Linked DNA regions of Homo sapiens. The protein of the gene in region 3 purifies or fractionates together with the protein of the main gene of each other region. This does not show direct contact. Each region holds a gene or a part of one and is shown on either strand. Other genes may lie near its edges.

Region 1 (8,519 bases), on a different chromosome or scaffold from region 3:
CTAAGAGAATTTTTTTTAAGTAGTTGAGGAAGTGTGCCCACAACTCATTTCTAAAACACTGACCTGTGTTCAAGATGGTATCAGCCTCTTAATTGCCCCACTAATAATGGGGAGGTTGTGAAACCTGACCACTTAAACCAGGCCAGCCCATGGCTCCTCTGGGAGCAGCCCCGAAGGGTCTGTTAGCAGGGCTGCAGAGGGTTGGCTGGCTGTAGTCACCTTGCAAGTCTTGCAAAAATACACATTCCTGCAAGGGCAAGGGTTCCTGAAACAAATGTTGCCTGGAGATCAAGGGGGTCATTTGCTCAGCTCTGCTCCAGCACCTAAATCCAGTTTCTCAGGACTTGGTGCTGCACCTTGCTGCCCCCTCTCAGGTTCTGAGTATGGCCCAGGCCCACAGAAAGCCTCCTCTGATTTGCATCACATATAGTCGACCCTTATCCTTTTATGTTCCTACAGCCCCACTGTAAGCAACCTTAGAGCTGAGGCCAACATCTATGGACTAAGTACCTCTTATTTGGTAGGGGACCCAAACATGAATCAAATACTCTAGTCACTGTGTACCAGTACTTCCTAGCTGACTCCCTGACAGAGCAACTTCTAGAAGACATGACCTAGGGAGGTGTGGACAGGGACAATTTTTTGCAGAAGTGATGCTAGGGCCGAGAAAGGAAGCTGCAGAGGTGTAAAGGAACACAGGCAGGAACAGCATGTGCAAAGACAATGGACCTTGATGCCCTGATCTTTGCCTCTACTTCTTAAAATCTATCAGGAAATACAGGATTTAGCAGGAAGGCAGCAGGGTCTAATTTGGTTCAGCCAATATTTACAGGGCTCTGACGCCACCAAGATGAGGTTCAGTGCCTGGCTAAAGAAACTAGTCTGAAGACATAGAAGTGAACAAATACTGACAAAGCTGTCTGATGAGACTAAAGTGCAAGGACCTGCATGAGAAGGTAAAGCAAGGGGCATGGCATTCAGGAGGGCTTCCCTGAGGAGGTACCACCTGAACTGAGTCTTAAGATAGGCAAGGAATTCTCAAGGGAGGAAAAGGCATCCTGGGAGGAGGGAAAAGCATGTCTTGGAAGCACAGAGGGCATCCATCCGGAGTTAGGAGCAGGATGAGAAGGGTAGGGGGTGAGGCTGGAAAGGGTGGGAATGCAAAGCATGTGGGGAAACTGGGTCCATGAAATCCACCAAGCAGCAAATCCAGGAGACAAGGAACCATGTATCAGCCTGGATGAGCCTGGAATCTGGAACATGGCCCAGAGGCCTCTACGATCGTCCAGGAGGCGAATGAGGATGACCCAAGGAAACGATTGGTGGGGCCAAGGCAGGAGCAGCTGAGAAAAGTCACCCCCAACTAGGGGCTGTGGTGGAGAAAACGTCAGCATAAGTGTGAGGTGACTGGGACAGAGCCACCATTTTATGAGGGTGCAGGTTTGGGAGAGGAGAACACACTCGCACAGGTAGAAGAAAATCACCAGCCTGGCTCCGTCAGGGCACTACCATACCCCACAGCATGGAAACTTCACGAGTTTTGTACAGTGGCATAAGAAGCCACCTTGGCAACTGCAGCAAAACAGTGAATCGGACTGATTTACCTACGCCATCACATGAACACTCAAAATAAAACGCCTGTGATATTGTAGTCATTCAAAAGCCAATAGGAGTCTAAATCCAAAATTCTAGTAGGATCCTTAAGTCAACACGAGATCCTCCTTGAGGAAACTTGCTAGCTACTAAAATTTTTTTAAACAATAAAACAAGAGCAGTAATGTTTTACTGAAATGGAACACAGTAAGAAAATGTGATGCTTTACTCAACTAGGAAGGAATGACAGAGCCTAATGGGGCGGGGGGGCGGGGGGGGAAGGGGGTGGCGGGGGCGGAGGCAGAGCAGGGGTCATAGCCGTCTCCATAGCTTAGCTACTGAGTCTGAAGACATCCCAGCTGTCTGGCTCACACCTGGTTTTCTGCACCACATTTCTTGGGACTGTGGGGCAAGTGAGCTTGGAGGCACCAGCCTGCGTGCCTAAGGGAGTGTTATGTCCTAGGTTTTGGCTGTGCTGAGGCTGTTTAGAGCCACCCAGAAGAGGCTGAGTCAACGTTCGCCTAAGCAAACCACTCCATACCTATCCCTCAGCCCAGCAATACTAAGGAAATTCTCATTTCATCCCATTTTTCATATGAAGAAATTGAGGCTCATGGCTCCCCAGGAGCAGAGCCAAGGTCATGTCCCTGCTGCCTGAGTGCAAAGCCTACGTTTTCTCCACAAGCTTAAGGCCGTGAGTGCCCTGACGCCGGGCCCACCCGGGCCTCGGTGGGAGACTCGGGGCAGACGGACATCATCTCCAGGTTCTGGGGCCGCCCAAGGCCAGAAGCCCAGGTAGGGAGCAGGGAAGCTGAGAGGGGAATGGCAATCACCCGCGCCCATCGCCCAGACAGTGTCAAAGGAGCGCTCGGTTCCACGAAGACGGCTCAATGCACACGGCGAAAGTCTGGGCACCTCTCCAGTCTCGTCTCAGGCACCTCACCCAGATGACACCCACGCGGCCCTTTGGCGGAAAAATATCCGCAACTCGAAGCAGGGAAGGAGGATATCAGCCGCGAGACCTTCACAAGACGAAGGGCTGAACCGGGAGGCGAAGTTTCTCAGGAGGTCCCGGAGTCAGAGGAGGGGTAGGAGTGGGGTGACGGCCCCAGGCGAGGAGGAACAAAGCTACTAGAAGAGCGGGGCGCATCCCTCCCCGGTGCTCCAAGTCCCCTCTCCGGCCGCCCGGGCCTTAGCAGGGTTGTGGACTGAAAGTCCGGGAGAATACCCCCTTCCCTCTCCAAAGCGCAACCCGGTCCGGGTGGCTCGGGGGATCCCAGCCCGGGACACGCAGCCCTGGGACGAAGGAGGTCCCGGGCCAAGAACAAAGGGTGGGGCGCCCGGCCCAGCCCCGCCGCCCCTCACGCCCGCCCTCTGAATGGGACCCCGGCCGGCGGCCGCACCTCATTAGCAACACAAAGCCGGGGTCGGGCAGCCGCTTTCATCTCGGCCAGGGCCGGAGGACACGCGTCCGGGGAGGGAAACCAGGAGGATGCGCGGGAGGAGTGAGACCCAGGCCGGCCGCGGACCCCGCGAAGAGCAGACAGGTTGGCGCGGGCTCGCCTCCCCGCGAGCACCTGTGCGCGCTGCGTCCCCCGCGAGTTGGCGACGGCAAGAAACCCGCCGCCCTCGCCTTACCCTCCAGCCACAGGTGTCGGCGCCCCGCGCGCGGCCGGACCCGCCAGCGGCCACAGCCAGCTGCGAGCCGTTGAGGCAGGCGTTGACCGTAAAGAAGACGGAGCAGAGCTGCAGCCACGGGGCCATGGCCGTGCGCTCGCCCAGCCAGGCCGTTCTCTGCGCCCCGGCCGCCCGCCGCTGGCCAGCCCCGAGTGGGCGGTGGCCGCGGCGGCCGCGGCGGCAGCGAAGGGGACCGCACTGGGCATGCGTTGCCAGCCCGGGCCCCGCCCCCACCCTCAGTCCTCGTGTGCTGGCCCCGCCCCCACAGCCTGGCCCTCCAGTTGTGGCCCTGCCCCCGTAGACCACGCCCCTCTGGTCACGCCCCCCAAGCCCCCACTGAGACTCTGGCAGCCGCAGTTTCTTCCCCCTCACTTAGTAGATCTTTTTTTAATCCAAAGGATTTGTCCAAGTGATGCTCACTCTATGCAAAACCTGAGGAAAACACAAAGAATGTAATAATAATAATTTTAATAATAATTTAATAAACACCTGCTATGTGCCAGACCCCTTTCTGTATACGCCCAACCACACAAGGAAGTGTATTATTGTTATCCCAGTTTTAGGCGCAGAAAAGTTAGGGGAACGTGACAGAGAAATCCTGGCTCCACATTTACTAGTAGGACTTTGGACAAAAGGCTTGCTGTCTCCACAATACTTCCTCACCACAACCCCCCGTCCCCCTCACCCTCCTGGAAGCTAGAATAAGTATCCTAGTCTGGGGAGAGTTCTGTTGGTTGAAACATAACAAGTGCTCCATAAAGGCTACAATCTATCATTAACTGACTCTCATAAGGTCACACAGCTGTTACCTGCCAGACCTGAGATCCAATCCAGACCTGACTAAAAACAATACTCTCAGCTACTACACTTGTCAAACATAACCTCATGAAGTGGATATTATTTCTGTTTGGAAGAGGAAACTGAGGCTCAGAGAAGTGGAGTAGCCCAAGCTATCCAGAGTTTCACCGCACTCTTCCCAGCGCTTTGCCTTTTATCTGAGCACCTAAACTCTCCCACTTTGTCCCTCTCCACTACCCCCTTCCTCAAGAATACCACCTCCTCTTCCTAAGGGCTTTTTCTACTTCTGACTTTGTCCCCGTGTCCGATACATTTCTCCAGCCTGGATCCAAAGTTATCTTCCAAAAACACAAATCAGACTACTGACTTATCCCAATTAAAACTCTAGGCTGAGTGCAGTGGCCAATCCTAGAGGATCGCTTGAGTTCAGGAGTTAGAGGTAACAGTGAGCTATGATCCTGCCAACCGCACTGAAGCCTGAGTGACACAGTAAGACCCTGTCTCTAAAAACAAACAAACAAACAAACAAACAAACAAACCTACCACCACCACCACCAACAAAAAAAAACAGTAAAATTATGTGTTCTGTGTTTGGAGGAGGATTAATAAAAATAAAATCAATAAATAAAACTGTTCTATGGTGGCTCTTATGCAAAGGCCATTTAGAATAAAATCCATACTGGCTTTCTCTTCCACTCTGTCTTTACCACCTGGCTCCTGCTGCACAGAACTCCCCCCAGCCCCAGCCTTATCTTGGTCTTTTTGCCTCAGGAAACCTTGGAAATTGTCACCTCCGTCCATTCAACAGGGCAGCCTCCTCTATATGACTCTCCTTCCAGGGCCCAGAATCCCCTCCCTCTCCTTCTCTGGCCTGGCCTAAGCTCAGCCACTGCTAACACAGGATTCCTGCACTTTCTCTTGTGGCTTGTGTCTCCACCACCCTGCCCACACGTCCTTGGAGGGCTTAAGTGGAGGAAGAGAACTCTTCTTGGTAATGCTAGCAGAAGTCTTGGGGATTTGCTTGGAAGTAGCTACATCTAGAACCAAGGAGTAGAGCCAGCCTCACCTGAACTTCAGGGGCTGGAAGTGTGAAACAGTGCTTGCCCAAAGGAACACTGACATTATTGCCAGGGAGAGGGAGAATGGGTGCTGGGTTCCCCAAACAACAGCATCCACCTCAAGACCCAGATGCTGGGCAGAATTTTTTTTTTTTTTACCTCACTGCCTGGAATTCAGGAATTCAGCCAGACCCAGTGAGGTTTACCATACCCTCTTCAGACACCAGAATAGCTAGGATCCACAGAAGGCTGTTCTGGAGTAGCCTTCTGTGAATAGACCTCAGGAAGCACATCACTCCTTTGGAGGAGCTGCTGGTTCAGTGCCTCCCTACCCTCCCTCACATTCTTGGTACTGTCCCTGGGTTGTTCTCAGCCCCCACAGCAAGGATGTCCAGCGTTTGGCCATGAGAGTCAGGGGTGCCAGGGGCTGAGATGAGGCCAGGACCATATGGGTTTTGGTGAAACAGGGAGGAAACAATGAGGCGACCAGCTCCTTAATCTATGTGACATTCCAGCCTATACATGCTTTATAACTTATTAAACAACCCCATGCTAAGGGACATCTGTTAGAATCAGTGATTCAAAAATACCCTAACACACTTACCTTGACACATTGATTCAATGATTTTATACATTTCTAGAATCAGAATTGCTGGATTATGCACATTTAAAATTGTCAAACTGTTCATTATGGTATTATCACCATCTTAATTGGCTTCTCTGGTTGCGAATGAGGTAGATCATGTTCCTATGTATTTGTTGGCCATTTGTATTCTTTCTCTTTTTTTTTCTTTGAGACGAAGTCTCACCCTGTCACCCAGGCTAGAGTGAGTGATGCAATCTTGGCTCACTGCAACCTCCGCTTCCCAGGTTCAAGCGATTCTCCTGCCTCAGCCTCCCGAGTAGCTGGGATTACAGGCGCGCAACACTGCACCCAGCTAATTTTTTGTATTTTTAGTAGAGACGTGGTTTCACCATGTTGGTCAGGCTGGTCTCGAACTCCTAACCTCAGGTAATCTGCCTGCCTCAGCCTCACAAAGTGCTAGGATTACAGACGTGAGCCACCACTCCTGGCCCATTTGTCCTCTTTCAGGAATTGGACTCCAGGAAAAGGAGCAGTACTTAGCACTTACAAGAGAAAGAGAACCTCAAGGAGAACATTGGTTAGAGAAAACTGTTTCTCCCTGGGTTTTACTCATGTCACCATATGATTGCATGACAGGGAAGGCAGAGCCCCACTCCTGCTCCCTTTCTGTCTGCACACCCACCCACTATTGAATTCCCTCCCATCCACAGCTCACTGCAGAATCTGGCAACCGACAGCCTCTGAAAACATGCTGCAGGGTTCAGAGAGAGCACAAGCTTTCCTGAAGCCATGTGGAGGGCACAAGAAGGAAAAGCCTTAAGCGTCCAGTCTAAAACATGCCTAGAATGACATCCCTCAGGACCAGGGATGGGGAGGCCCTCCTATTTCCTTTCTAGGAAGGCCACCAGCATGTATGTGAGTGGCAGGAGAGCCACAGACACCAAAGGGTCAAATCTGGTCAGGAAATTAAGGTTGTAAATTGGCATTTGGCAACATTCTCTGTATTCTGGTCTTTCCCATTGATTCTCCCATCTCCTCCTTTCTGGTTTTTTTGTGTTGTTGTTGTTTTTGTTGTTGTTTGTTTGTTTGTTTGAGACGGAGTTTTGCCCTTGTTGCCCAGGTTGGAGTGCAATGCCATGGTCTCGGCTAATTGCAACCTCCACCTCCCAGGTTCAAGCGATTCTCCTGCTTCAGCTTCCCAAGCAGCTGGGATAACAGGTGCCTGCCACCATGCCTGGCTAATTTTTCATATTTTTAGTAGAGGTGGGGTTTCACCATGTTGGCCAGGCTGGTCTGGAACTCCTGATGCCAGGTGATCCACCCACCTCGGACTTCCAAAATGCTGGGATTAAAGGCGTGAGCCGCCGCTCCCAGTCTCCATCTCCTCTTTTTATCCCAACCCTTCAGAATAGCTGTAAGGCTGCAGGGAGTGGACCTCTCTGTCCTGGAAGCTGAGCTAAAATGAGGGGACCAGGCCCCACATGCCTTTCATGGATCACAGTTTCCTCCAGGCCACAGTGGAGCTCAGCTGTGGAGGTGACCAGAAGATGAGCTAGGGAAACCCTCCCTCAATACAACACTTGGTCTCACCTGCCAAGGCCAGGATTGCCTGTAGTCCAGTCACACTTTCAGCCACTCCTCGTGGTGAGAGGTGGCTGTCATCTGATTCACCTCTGCCCCCATGCCTAGCACTCTGTCTGGCACGCTTCAGTGGGCAAGAGACTGTCACCACCTCCCCCTCTTTGGAACAAAGCTGAGAATTAAACAGATAAAATCACCTTAAAATAAGCTGTTGATGAAATGTAAATATATTTTCCCACTCTAATTATAACCTAGCCAGATAAGAAAAATCCTTAACGCAAGGATTGGATTTTGTTAGGGGTCAAATTATCCCGTGAAACATAAAAAAAGATAAAGTGATGGTGGAAGTAATTTGTATCATGAATCATTTTGAGCAGGGAATAACTAAATACTATTTTAATGAACAGTGTTAGAAGCAGTCGGCCCAAATTCTAATTTATTTTGGTATTGTGAGAAATTAGTGTATGTTTTCTGTATTAATAAAGACATTAAAGGTAAAGAGTGTCACTGTACCCCTGACCCCAGTCTCCCAGAGGGCTGAGGGTGCAAGGTTTCCCAGGCTTTGGAGGGAGCAGTATGTGGAGAACTGGTACCCACCTGCAAGCCCTTAGTCCCTGAGACCCCACAAGACTGCCTGGATGTCAATCAGGCTACCTGGCAGTCTTGGCTCCAATGGGGTAGGCGTCATCATCCCCACTGCACAGATGGGGAAGCTGATGCTCAGCGAGGGGAAGTCTGCTCGCGGTCACAGAGCTGGGGTTCAAACCGGACCCCGATCGCCTGGCCTGGGACCGCCTTGCCTGGGACGAAAGGCCCCAGACTCAGCTGATTCCTCCAGACTCTTCCTGTCTAGGACGCCAAAAACATGGCCTTCCTAAACCCAGCCTTGGCGCCTCCTGCACAGCCCAGAGACCCAGGGCGGCGGACAACAGAAAACCTGGGGCGGCGGACCCAACCCTGCGCCCAGAAATCCCAGGACGCCCACCCCATAGTTCTGGAGCGGTGCGTACCTTGGCCACTACACGGAATTCACCGGCCCACGGCCACTTCCCGTTTCTTTTCCCGGAGGAAAAGAAGAGCGGATGTCTAGTCTCCAAGGTAACCGCGAGGGGGCGCGCGCAGTCCAGGTCGGAGACCGCCGCCCCAGACTACCCTGCACTGCGACCGCACAACAAGTCTTTCTAGATCAAAGCCGCCAGGGCAGGTGGGAGTACTCTGCTGTTATT
Region 2 (8,483 bases), on a different chromosome or scaffold from region 3:
GGGGTCTCCCTATGTTGTCCAGACTGGTTTCAAACTCCTGAGCTCAATGATCTTCCTGCCTCGGCCTCCCAAAGTGCTGGGATTTCAGGTGTGAGCCACCATCCCCGGACCTTTTCTTTTCAAAACATACATAAAAATGGAAATGAATAGGACCAGCCAGTGGCTGTGATGCAGCCAAAACGCCCTGTCTGGAAAGCATGCGTCTAGGTAATCTTCCTCCGCTTTGCCAGGCGGTCTGAGGTCTGGGCTGGAGGCAGCGGGAGGGACAGGGTGCCCAGCTTGTGATCTTCTTCACTGCCGGCGGCCACAGACACCCTTCTTTTGGAGATCTTCAGCCTCATGGCTTTGGCTATCTCCATCATCCTAAGGAAGACATAAACAGAAGAACTGGAGAGACCCCTCAACATGACTGTTCAGGGAGGTTTGGCAAAAGGTAGCAGCACATTCATGCTCCAGGCCATAAAGACAGAATCCCAAAGGTTGCCAGCAGGCACAAAGCCCCTGGCAGAGAGGCAGGCAAGGTCCCCTCACCCGCTGGGAACCATCAGACAGCCAATTTCATTTTAATGCCCTTCAAAAGATCCATATGGGTGATGAAAAACCAGGGTATCTACAGCCCCGTGAGCAACTTTCTTTACCTCCCATAACCAAACTTTTAGCAACCAGGATTGAGCACTTGCTAGAATCTGACAGGTTCCAAGTACCTGTTCTCTTTTTTTCAGCCTCACTGCCTGTGGGAACACAGTTTGTGGACAGCCCTCAGAACAGTCCCTCCACGGACTGCTAGAGAGTCCAGACAGAGGTGTGTTCACAGGCTCTCCTAGACACCCTCTGGGCCACTGGATGTCAGATGCCCCTAAATCACTGACAAAGATCAGCTGACCTCACAGTTCAGGTTCCTGGGCAGCTCTGCCCCTACTGTCTGAATCTCCTCTACAAGGCTAGATGGAGCCTAAAAGGTCACCTCCACCACCAGCTCTCCCAGTTGGGTCAGAGAAGTGCAAACATAAAATCCCTGCCAAACAGCAGTTCCACCTGGCCTTGGAACCAGCGGTTCCCCTGGCAAACCCTTCCATCTGATTGTGAGGAAGCTCTTCTTACTAAGCTCAAATTGGGTTGTCCTACAACTTCCACCCTGAGCTGCACTCCTCAGAACCATACAGAATCCCTCTCCCCTGTGACAGCAATTCAGAGAATGGAGGCTGCCTGGTTATTCAGAACAGAATGTTATGGAAAGGCTCAGGTCTCAAGGCCAACTACTCCCCTCTTGGTTGTGTAACCTTGAGAATGTTACGTACTTTTCTGAGCCTGATTCTTCAATTGTTTTCTAGGGAAATCAGTGAGATAATGACATAATTTATCTAGCACAGAGAAGGCACTCAGTAATGTCTAGTTGCTCATTCAGTCAATGATTCATTCATTGAAAATAGTCCTTTAGTTCCAAGTTGTTCCCACATTTAAACATCCTCAGTTCCCTTGGTGGTGCCTCATGCTTTCCAGTGGTACCAGAAATAAGACATCGAGACACCCTGCAGGGAGCTCTTTATTCTGTTGTGCTCACCTTTTCTCACTGAGCTTCAAGTCCCTCTGTAACACTGTCAGGTCAATTTGGAAGTCATGTATGTGCAAGGCAAGTATGATCACATATGCAGTAATCTTCGCCTTCATAGAATCCGAAATTAAGTTCCGTAATCTAGAAAATCAGTGGCAATAAAGGAGAAACAAAATTAAACTCTCAGACAATTTCTCCAAAAGCAAAATAAGAACATCCAATCCTATTCTCATATGCACGGAATGTCTTCCCAACTTCAGGAAAGGAAAAGGAATGTGGGTGACTTTGCCCTTCCAAGGTTCCTGGGCCTCACACACAGTGGAGCAGTGTGCCAGTCCATGTTTCCCTCTGAGGCAGATAGAGAAAGCTGGGCCTACACTCTACCTGGGCACTGCTAGCGCTTTGAGCTGGTGAGGGCCCTGTGAGTCTGTCCCCGCCTGCCCAGCAGGGCTGCTGGGAAAACAATCATCCCGAAATCAGCTGTGCTGATTCTTCCAAGCACACTCAAGAGCAGAAAACACACGCCATGCAAATGGCAGGAAGGAAGCCCAGGGGCAGGGCCTGCGGGTCTTTCCCCAGAGTCACCGAGTTGGGCTGCCCTTTTCTGCAATGCTGCCTTTCCGCAGAACACCAGCTCTGTGAGACATCGGGAAGGGCTATTCAAAAGTATGTGAAGTAAAACAAGTCTTTATTGTAGGACTTCCCAGAGCTTCTAAGGTTCCCAAAAGGTAATACTTTTCTAAGAAGGGCAGAGTATGTCATATTTAGCATTTGCTAAACTTACTGGGGCCCCAGGAGCCTTCCAAATGGCAGCAGTCTTTTCAGCACTGCATCTCCGTGGACATGGAATTGAGTCCAAGCCCCTGCTCCTCACTCCCAACCCCCACCTACTTTCTCCTGCACAAGAAAAATCCCAGCAACCACCCCCTGACCTGCCATTGTTGTAGGTCAAGCAAGTAAAGTGCTTCAGCAGTTTGGTGTTGATGATGTGGGGAACTCCAGGTCCCAGAGCACCTACAACACAAAGTTGAGTTTGATCATTTTCTCTCAAAACCCTCAGGCCACACCTCAACCATGAGCTAAGAGAAAAGGCCAACAGCTGGGCCACTGCAATGACCAGAACCAGGTGGTAAGAGAAGCAGGGCCCACACAAAGCAGAACAGCCACATCAAAATGAAAACATGCTTGGTGTGCTGCAGCCTGCAGTTTGCCCTGCACGAGAGATGCTGGTGATGGGGCAATGACAAGAAAACACAGCCTGAGGCCTAAGGACCCAGAGTTAACATGACCTTAGAAAACAAAAATTGTGCTGAAAGCTCAGGGAGAGAGGGGGAAAGGTGGAATTGGAATGTGAAAATAAGAACTAAGTGGCCAGGCGCGGTGGCTCACGCCTGTAATCCCAACACTTTGGGAGGCCGAGGCAGGCAGAACACCTGAGGTCAGGAGTTCAAGACCAGCCTGACCAACATGGTGAAACCCCATCTCTACTAAAAACACAAAAATTAGCCAGGTATGGTGGCGCAAACCTCTAATCCCAGCTACTTGGGAGGCTGAGGCAGGACAATTGCTTGAACCCAGGAGGCAGAGGTTGCAGTGGGCCAAGATTGCGCCACTGCACCCTAGCCTGGGCAATAGAGTGAGACTCCATCTCAAAAAAACAAAACAAAACAAAACAAAACAAAACAAAACAAAACAAAAAACAACTGGCTGGGCATAGTGGCTCACACTTGTAACCCCAGCACTTTAGGAGACCAAGGCAGGCAGATCATGAGGTGAGGAGTTCGAGACCAGCCTGACCAACATGGTGAAACCCCGTCTCTACTAAAAATACAAAAATTAGCCGGGTGTGGTGGCGGGCGCCTATAATCCCAGCTACTCAGGAGGCTGAGGCAGGAGAATCCCTTGAACCCAGTAGGTGGAGGTTGCAGGGAGCCGAGATCGAGCCACTGCACTCCAGCCTGGGCGACAGAGCGAGACTCTGTCTCAAAAAAAGAAAAAAAAAAAAGAACTAAGCAAATACAAGCTGGGTGCAGTAGCTCACGCCTGTAATCCCAGCCAGCATTGTGGGAGGCCAAGGAGGGTGGATCACCTGAGGTCAGGTGTTCGAGACCAGCCTGGCCAACATGGAAAAACCCCGTCTCTACTAAAAACACAAAAATTAGCTGGGCGTGGTGGTGCCCGCCTGTAATCCCAGCTACTCGGGAGGCTGAGGCAGAATTGCTTGAACCCAGGAGATGGAGGTTGTAGTGAGCCAAGATCATGGGACTGCACTCCAGTCTGGGTGACAGAGCGAGATACTGTCTCAAAAAAAACAAAACAAAAACAAAACAAAAAAACAACAAAAAAAGCATGACTAAGCAAATACAGTCATGTCCCACATTACAGTGTTTTGGTCAATGACAGGCCACATATGTGACAGTGGTCCCATAAGATTTTTTTCACACAGGGTCTTGCTGTCACCGAGGCAGTGGTGCAATCATAGCTCATTGTAACCTTGAACTCCTAGGCTCAAACACTCTTCCTGCTTCAGCCTCCCAAATAGCTGGGAATACAGGCGTGCACCACCCCAGCTAATGTTTTTATTTTTGTGTAGAGACAGTGTCTTGGTATGTTGCCCAGGCTGGTCTCAAACTCCTGCCCTGAAGTGATCCTCTCACCTTGGCCTCTCAAAGTGCTGAGATATAGGCATGACCCACCATGCCCAGCCAGTCCCGTAAGATTATAATATCATAGTTTTACTATTCCTTTTCTGTTTAGATATATTTAGATATACAAATACCATTGTGTTACAATTGCCTATAATATTCAGTATAGTAACATGCTGTATAGGTTTGCAGCCTAGGAACAGCAGCTTATAGCATATAGCCTAGGTGTGTAGTAGGCTATACCATCTAGGTTTATGTAAATATACTCTATGATGTTTGTACAATGACAAAATTGCCTAAGGATACATTTCTCAGAACATATCCCCATCATTAAGCGACACATGACTATACTGAAAAACAGGAGTATAGACTACTGGATGCCCAATCACAGTAACAACAACTAAATACACCTTGTGCCTAAAACCACAGACATCTTCTGGGTTTCCAACTCTGGGTAGGTATGAGGGTGTGACCCGCAAAGGATCCTAGCTACAGGTGACACTGGGTTACCATCAGATTGACTCTCTCCTGTTAGAAATAAGCTGACACAACACAAACCTGCCACAAGCCTTCAAGATACATCTGTGTAACTCATAAGCTCTCTCTATATATACACACACACACGCACACACGTGGCTGATGTTTGTTCTAACAGTCCCTTAAAGTTTTCCTTTTATTTGACCTGGATATTCTACTTTGCCTCATGCAGAATAGAAGTAGCAAATGTTAGCTCTGGAAGGACCCTGAACTATCATATAATCCAACGTGGCCCCAATTTTCAGATGAGAAAATGGGAGATCCAGAGAGAAAAAGGGGCCTGGCAAGTCCCCTCGACATGTCAGCAGTACCAGAATGAATCTCACAGTTGACAGTAAAGACTTGGACAGACATATCCATTTTCTTCTCTCATCAGAACTCATCTAAGAATTACAGACAAATAATATACTGGAAACAATTAGAATAAAATGTTTATCATAGACTTACTTTTCCGCTTAACTACCCTATGAGCTCGAAATTTGATGAGGGTATCCAGAAACCATATGCATCGGGCCTGGCGGTCTCGGCTCTCCACATCTGATGGCAAAGACTTCAACGCTTCTATGACAAAGGTGCAATGGCTAAAACAAGGAAAAGAAAAGGAGGCCTGTGTCAGGGTAAGATGGGCTCTGTCAGGAACTACTTCCCTCTTACAACGAGAACAGCAGGCGCCTCTCACCCCGACGCACTCAACAGCTGATGAAACCCTGGGCAACAAGGCAAGACCCCATCTCTACAAAAACGTAGCCGGCATGGTGGCACATGTGTGTGGTCCCAGCTACTCGGAAGGCTGAGGCGGGAGGATCACTTGAGCCCAGGAGGTCGAGGCTCCAGTGAGCTGTCTGCGCCACTGTACTCCAGCCTAGGTGACAGAGCAAGACCCTGTCTCAGAAACAAAAAAAAACAAACGAACAAAAGCAGCTGATGAAGGGCCAGTACACTCAACACTCCTTATAATAGGAGAACATGGTTCAGTGCAGGGATGAATAAAGGGCTAGACAGTAAATATTTTAGGCTTTGGAGGCCATACAACCTCTGTTGCAACTACTTGACTCTGCCATCGTAGTGCGAAAGCAGGCACAGATATTACTTACGTAAATGAACAGGGCTGTGCTCCAATAAAACTTTATTTATACTTTACTTACTCACAGGCAGCAGGCCAGACTTGGCATGTGGGCTGTAGTTTGCTAACCTCTGACCTCTGTTTTTATAGTCAGGAGCATAGACTCTGTAGTCAGCCTGCCTGGGTTTCAATCCTTTCTCTGCCATTTAATGGTTTAGGCAAGTTTCTTTTTTTGTTTGTTTGTTTGTTTGTTTGAGACTGAGTCTCACTCTGTGGCCCAGGCTGGAGTGCAATGGCGCAATCTTGGCTCACCGCAACCTCCGCTTCCTGGGTTCAAGCGATTCTCCTGCCTCAGTCTCCTGAGTAGCTGGGATTACAGGCATGCACCACCACGCCCAGCTAACTTTGTATTTTTAGTAGAGATGAGGTTTCTCCATGTTGGTCACGCTGGTCTTGAACTCCCGACCTCAGGTGATCTGCCCGACTCAGTCTCCCAAAGTGCTGGGATTACAGGTGTGAGCCACCGTGCCCAGCGGGGCAAGTTTCTTGGTATCTGGTGCCCTGGTTTCTCCATCTATAAATTGGGGCCAATGATAGTACAGGTACTCTCCTCCTGAGCATTTTTTCTGGATTAAGAGATGATGCCAGTAAAGCTCTTAGAACAGTGCTTGGCAAAAATGTTAAGGCTCAGTCAATGCTAACTATTATTTTCAGGCACTGCTCTACTGCTAGCAAGACCCTGGACTCACAGAGATAAAAAGGCTCTTCAAGATCATCTCATAGATGCCTCATTTTACAGATAGAAAAACTGAGGCTTCAAGAAGGGAAGATAAGGGCAGAGTTCGGGGACTCAGTTTTCAGACTCCCCGCTCAGAGTTCGTTCCTGCACCTGCCCCTGAGTCACAATCACATTAAGACAACTATGAACTAGTAATGAGCTCTTTTTTGGAAATAAATCTTTGAAGCAAAAAAAAAAAAAAAAAAAGAAATAATAATAATAATTCCAAGGCACTGGATTTCAATGACCAGTAAAATTTTAAAACAAAAACTGGAGGAACAAACCTCAGATTGACAACTCTTTATCAAAATAAAATTATTAAAAGAAAAAACTCAAAAGCAAAAAAAACTCACTATCATAAAAGAAGCTGTTTTAATGGGAAAGGGGAGGGAGAAGGAAATAATCTCTGAATTATTTAAAATATACAATATTTTAAATACATAAATTTAATGTTAGAAAAGTTTGCCTACCATATCATCACAGAGAAACCATCACTTTGGCCAGCACCCATTCCCAGGCCAGCATTTGGGCCCTGCCAGTGACAATCAGCACCAGCATGACACTGGGTGACACAGGCCAGCTCTAGTTCCCAGCCCCAGAGTAGAAGGCCTCACCACCCTCTGCCCTGTCGCAGGTCCCACGGACTCAGAGACCAGCCCTCTCCCTCGAATGTGACCCACAGCTCCTGAAAGCCCAAACATTCAAGAAAACACTGGCTCATTCATGTCCAATGCTCCAGACACACTTCCTCACTGACTGACGCCCAGAGGACCTGCACAGTGTCTGACTACTGTTGGGTCCCAACAGCACTCCCCAGAATCCCCATCTGCTTAAGTCAGGGTACCTGTTCTCCTCAATCATCTTCAGTATTTCTTCTGACGTGACGTTCCTGAAAGCTTCAGATGGGCTCTGAAGAGCTTCATACTCCGCAGGGGAAAGAACTAGTTACAGGTCAAGAATATAATCCAACCAAAATAGAAACATCCAACTAGCTAGGTCATCTCATAGCAGTGGCATTTCACAGACAGGGAAACAGGCTCAGAGAGCCAAAGATCACACAGGGCAGATCACATAGGGGCAGAGCTTGGTGACTCAGTTCTCCGACTCCCAGCCCAGAGCCCATTCCCTGCCCAGGCTTTTCTGCTTTTTCTCATCACAAAGCCACTGCAGGCATTTTCCTTCTGACCGGACCCCTTGGGTGGTGAAATTCTAAGCTCCAACCCTTCCTTCAACAAAAGTGGTCTGCCCTAGACTTTGGGCATTTGGCTGGTTCAACTCTTATTTTGACTCTCCATGGAGAGTGAGCCCCACAGGTCTAAGCTGTGGGCATTTGGCATTTTGCTGAGGAATGGATTTGAATCCCAGGGGCCGGTCCCTCAGCTAGTGAGGAAGCCAAGTTAACCTCCTGGCAAGAGCACTGAGCAACTGCAAAGGTTTGGATGGAGCTCTTGTGAATGTCACAGAACACAGACACCCTCAGAGAACCTGACTGCACACACGTGCAAACATCTCAACTTGTGAAATAAGGCAGCTTTTCTACTGCAAGAAGGATACGATCTTCAAATTTATACACGTCTTCAGGCTTGGCTGCATCATCATAGCAGGGAGGAAGGTAGAGGGAGTCATCTTGCAAGTCATTGTGGATAGCATCGCTGACCAGAGCTTTTCAATAAAGAAACAATCCATGTATCACCCTGTTTGTTTCCAGTTCCCCAACATTCTTTTCAGTCTGTGCACTTCAGACCACCAATGGTCCAGAAACCCCAAGTCTAAATGCTTCTGCCAAAGTGACCTCGCCTCCCCATCAGGCTGACTGCTTCAGGACTGCCATGTTCACTCATGAACAAACACAAGCTAGGCACTGGAGAAGGTGGAGGTGACAAGATTCCCCTCAGGTAACTTACAATA
Region 3 (5,223 bases):
TCAAGACCAGCCTGGCCAACATAGTGAAACTCCATCTCTACTAAAAATACAAAAATTAGCCAGGCATGGTGGTGCGTACCTGTAGTCCCAGCTACTCAGGAGACTGAGGTGGGCGGATCACTTGAGCCCAGGAGGCGGAGGTTGCAGTTGTTGAGCTGTGATTGCACCACTGCACTCCAGCCTGGGTGACAGAGTGAGACTCTTGTCTCAAAAAAAAGAATGATGAACATTATACAGAACCTTAGTAAATATTTAGTGAAAGGATCCCAATTTGTGTTTCAAATTTTTTAATGTAGAGATGGGGGTCTCACTATGTTGCCCCAGCTGATCTCAAACTCCTGGCTTCAAGAGATCCTTTTGCTGGCCTCCCCAAGTGCTCAGATTACAGGCATGAGCTACCACACCTGGCCCCAAATTATTAGATACATTATAAATCCTACTCAACCATCCAGAGTCAGACTGAAACACACAAAAGCATTTGATGGAAGAAAACATGGTGGAGCTTTGGATGTTCAATTAGTTGAAACAAGAAAAGTATGCAGTTGTACACCAATGAACAGTTCTCAAGGCAGCCTGCACCTTCGAATCACCAGGGGGCTTTAAAAACCATCCATGTCCAGACCCCTCTTCTGGAGACTGATTCAATCAAAGGTTGAGTTGGTGTGTGACGTGAGCCTGGGCATCCTTAGTTTCTCAGCACTCCAAGGGACTGATTCTAGGGCACAGCCAGGGTTAAGAACCACCATCGTAAGCACTGCCCGGCAAGGGAAACACGCTGGTTCCTCCTCTCCAGTTCAGATCTAAGTTGGTACCAGGGAGGTAGGTATTATGGAAGAAATAGAAGTTATCTTTAACCAAAAAAAACTTCCCATGGAAGTGCTTCCTTTCTTGCAAGAAAACAACAGCCATTAACTTGTACATGCATCGAATCCTTAAAGCCTTACACTAGTATCTTATTCCCATTTTACAGTTTAATTAGCGCTCAGAGAGGTTAGGTAACTTGCTCAACGTCAAACAGCTAGCTAGGAAAGGAAGCCCATGGCACTTGGTAAGTTGACTTGTAAAAATTCAGCCACTTCTCATCAAGGAAGACCAAACCAGAGCACACAGACAAAAGGACAGACCCTGGAGACTCCTACAACTGACAGCTTTTTAGTGAAAGGAAAAATTCCCATTGTTGGCATGTAATTTATAAGGAGATTTCACAGTATTTTTCCCCATAGATGTCCCTTCAAAGCATGTAACTTTTTGAAAGAAGTGTCTGCTTCCCTTGGACCTGCTCAAGCCTCAATCACTCTTTGCTGGGTGTGATTAAGGAGAGTCGCGGATACTTCATATAGTGCACACGGAAACCATCCTCACCCCGGCATGCAATGAATTCCATCAAGCTCCCCGCCACACCAGCACTATTTCTCCCTCTTCAACAGCAATGCCTCAGGAGTTTTCCACTGCAAAATGCTTTAATACATTAAATTAAAAAAAAAAAAACAAAACAGAAATTGAAAGAACATGTATTGAGGTACCTTTTATTGGTATAAGAACGTAAGTTCCAGATTAACCATGTCATTGTTTCATTTTCACCATGGATTTTTTTTCACAAACTCCTTTGAAATTAAACAGACTTATATGTAAATGTCTTTCTACATTAAAACTACTTCCCAACCCACAAAGACCCCACTTACTACTAATTTCTGGGGAATTTCGTTTACTCGTTTTATCTAATATTAAAAAATCAACATTTTGCCAGCAGTTAAAAAGACAACCTTAAAGTTCTCAAATTACTTTCCACCAAACCCGGAAAAGAAAACCACCCATATCCAAAACTTTAAAGCAATAAAAATTTCTATTTTCCAAAAAAGTATTTACAGACTGAAATTCAAACTCTACATTGCCATCAATGTAATTATACAAGTGCATACAAAGCCCTGGAAAAGAGGAAGTATTTCATTACAAAATATTTATGATCAAGAAAATATTGCTTGCCTTTAAATAAAGTGGCAGAAAATAAATATGCTTAAAGATGGCCATTTTCACAAGTAAACAAAAAAGTACACATGTAAGAAACAAAGTGAAAATGCTTGAGCTTCAAAATGACTCTAGCAGTGTTTGCACAAATTTGTTTTAAAGCGAGGTCTTCTGAAGACTTCCTCTGTTTAGTTATAAAAATACAAAAAGAGGCTTTAGAGAAGGATTTCACCAAGCCGAATGTGCGATGCACACAGCCATCAGACCAAGACTGCACTAGCAACTTCCACCTATTGTTGTGAGCAAAACCGTACACCAAATAATCTAAAAAAATTTTCCTGTTTCCAACAAAGAAATTCCCAATAACTAAGTGATGCAGATCAAAACTGACTCGATCTAATGGCCACCAAGGAGCAGTTCTAGATCTAAGGGGACACTTGAGAGCCAAGGGGTCAAATCCAATCTCATGTGTTTTACACAAGCCCGAACTCACTTTCAGTCTGTGTGAATTACATCTACCTGGACCTCCATTTTTGTCTTTTAAATCCATTTTTTCGCTGTGCCAAGTATATTACACATCTGATTCTGTTTCCCTATATCCTCTCTCTCTTCCCTATGGGCTTTTATTGGTCTCTGAAGTCCCTGGAGATCTTCAGTGCCAGCTCCAACTCTGTGTCCCAGACCATGTCGGGCCAGCTCTCAGCTTTCCTTCTGTCTTCTCTACACTCCCTTGAAATCCCAACAGACAAATACCAATACAGCAGAAGGTGAACAATGTAGCCAAAATAAACACTTTCTAGTTAAAGTCTTTAAATAGAAGTTTTATCTTAGAGGATTCTTCACTGAAAGCTCATCAGTCAAGTCCTAAGACCATGGATCTGACAAAAACCCATGTTAAAACAGCAACCCGTAAAACAGTCTGCTGCCTATATTAGAAATTACCCAGTAATTGTGTCAAAAAGCTGTTAACACAAAAAATGTACATATTAAACAAGCAAATCCTTCCAAATGTATCATCAACCCCACTGTAAAAGATTGCACATGATAGTCTTCATTTTGTCTGTAAGGGGAACAACAACAACAAAAAAACCCAGTCTTCAGATGCTTGATTCAGTCGAACCTGGAAGTGCCACAGCCGAGGCAGGCACTCGCTCTAGTTCAATGCCATCAATGCCCAATGGCACAAGCTGGGTGCTGAGGGCATGACAAGTGATGGGGAATCCCAAATGTCACATCTCAGTCACAAATTTCTGCCGTCAGAGGGGACTGGGTTGCATGTACAACACGGGTGGGGAGCCCACACTACTTGAAGGACTTCGGAAATGCGTGTCAAAGGAGCTTGGTGTGATCCCAATCACGGTATCATTCTGGGGCACTTCGCCTTTCAGAAAGTCATCATCTTCATCTTCCACTATGTCCTGCAGAAACATCAGAAATCATCAGTAACATCACCAGTGCTGACTGAAAAGCTTTCAACAATTCCTTCCTCAGGAAGGTGTTAACGTTTGTAAAGATGGTGAAGAAAATATCTTAATTTCAAAAGAAAGCCAGTGTAGTGGCACACGCCTGTAGTCCCAGCTACTCAGGAGGTGGAGGTGGGAGGACTGCTTGAGCTCAAGAGTTCCGAATCCAGCCTGGGCAACATAGCGAGACCATGTCTCTAGAAAAACAGAACAGAACAAAAGCTCCCTCTGATAAGCACTTCCTTCTTACCAACATACCCACATAACTGCTCATCACACATTGTAATCATTTGTTTCAAGTCTGACTTGCAAACAGATTTGAAGCTCAATGGGGACAGGAAACATGACGAGTCATTCTTGCCCAGTGTTAGGAACTCTTGTACCTAACACAATGTGAATGAATTACACGCCCCTCAACAAATGAAACATAAAGAAAAAGATGAAAGGGGCTTTCCAATGATTACTTATTAAAAACAACAACAAAAAAGCCATCTTGAAGCTGCTTTTAATGAGAAAACAAATGTGCTCCCAAGCAACAGAGCAGCGAAATTCTTTATTACTGGATTCTAACTTTCCTCTCTAACTGTAACTGTCTCAGCTCCACCTCATGTGACCTGGAGGGTATGTTGCAACCTGCGTCTTCACCACCCATTCATGAAGATCTATAAAACTAATGTAAACTGCTGGGGCAATTTCAACATGAGTCAACTGGAGATTGTTACTTGGTAAGAATGCGCAAGTGGCAAAGATCTAAATTCATTCAGCTAATTTGTAATTAACCTTCGCTTCTCACATGTCAGTATGTGAAGTGTCTGGTTTAAGCAATTTATCCAAAAAAGCCATAGACTCTTTAAATAACAACAAAACCTGGGCCTGGAATTTTATAAAGGCAGAATGAGTAAGACACGGTTTTGGTGTGCTTTTTTAAAGAAAACAGGGTCTTGCTCTGTTGCCCAGGATGAAGTGCCATGCTGCATTTACAGCTCACTGCAGCCTTGACCTCCCACCTCAGCTTCCAGAGGAGCTGGGATTACAGGTGTGCACCACCACGCCCAGCTAATTAAAAAAATTTTTGTAGAAACAGGGTGTCACTGTGTTGCCCAGGCTGGTCTCCAGCAATCCTCTGGCCTTGACCCCCTAAAGTGCGGGGATTACACGCACGAACGACTTGCCACTTACTATCTCACTGTGACCTGGAACCAGAAAGGAGATTCCGAGAGTGTGCTCAATCAATCACAAACTGACCTTTTTCATGGGTTTCTTGAACTCCTGTAGCTCTTCAGCACTCATGTCTTCCCACACCTGATAAATAGGATCAATGAATTTCTTTGACCTGTCAACAAAGATCACATTTCAAAGTCAAGTTAAATACTTCGGCAGAAGTCAAAATTGGTTTGGATCTTTTCTCACAAGATCTATTACCCAAAACCAAGAAGTGAAAACTACAGCTTAAATAATTACATTTAAAAAAAACCTGGCTGGGTGCAGTGGCTCACGCCTGTAATCCCAGCACTTTGGGAGGCTGAGGTGGGCAGATCATGAGGTCAGGAGATCGAGACCATCCTGGCTAACACGGTGAAACCCCATCTCTACTAAAAATACAAAAAATTAGCCGGGTGTGGTGGCGGACACCTGTAGTCCCAGCTACTCGGGAGGCTGAGGCAGAATGGCCTGAACCTGGGAGACGGAGCTTGCAGCGAGCCGAGATCGCGCCACTGCACTCCAGCCTGGGAGACAGAGCAAGACTCTGTCTCAAAAAAAAAAAAAAAAAAGAAAAAAACAAAACAAAAAAACA

Evidence for each region.
Region 1: the proteins of RRN3 (region 3) and IL17RD purify together in Homo sapiens (co-immunoprecipitation; 2 studies listed by BioGRID and IntAct, with this or other methods). This does not show direct contact.
Region 2: the proteins of RRN3 (region 3) and POLR1E purify together in Homo sapiens (co-immunoprecipitation; 2 studies listed by BioGRID and IntAct, with this or other methods). This does not show direct contact.

What each region holds. Positions count from the first base shown.
Region 1 is NC_000003.12:57,161,930-57,170,448, forward strand, and holds the start of IL17RD (interleukin-17 receptor D isoform a precursor), read right to left. Parts: upstream 3,425-8,519; 5' UTR 3,358-3,424; coding exon 3,232-3,357; exon of another isoform or gene 3,039-3,231; coding exon of another isoform or gene 2,997-3,038; intron 1-2,996. UniProt on the Homo sapiens protein: Feedback inhibitor of fibroblast growth factor mediated Ras-MAPK signaling and ERK activation. Regulates the nuclear ERK signaling pathway by spatially blocking nuclear translocation of activated ERK without inhibiting cytoplasmic phosphorylation of ERK.
Region 2 is NC_000009.12:37,494,923-37,503,405, reverse strand, and holds part of POLR1E (DNA-directed RNA polymerase I subunit RPA49), read right to left. Parts: intron 8,238-8,483; coding exon 8,130-8,237; intron 7,517-8,129; coding exon 7,420-7,516; intron 5,316-7,419; coding exon 5,182-5,315; intron 2,567-5,181; coding exon 2,485-2,566; intron 1,694-2,484; coding exon 1,562-1,693; intron 364-1,561; coding exon 204-363; 3' UTR 1-203. UniProt on the Homo sapiens protein: Component of RNA polymerase I (Pol I), a DNA-dependent RNA polymerase which synthesizes ribosomal RNA precursors using the four ribonucleoside triphosphates as substrates.
Region 3 is NC_000016.10:15,058,523-15,063,745, forward strand, and holds the end of RRN3 (RNA polymerase I-specific transcription initiation factor RRN3), read right to left. Parts: intron 4,762-5,223; coding exon 4,674-4,761; intron 3,384-4,673; coding exon 3,222-3,383; 3' UTR 1,511-3,221; downstream 1-1,510. UniProt on the Homo sapiens protein: Required for efficient transcription initiation by RNA polymerase I (Pol I). Required for the formation of the competent pre-initiation complex (PIC).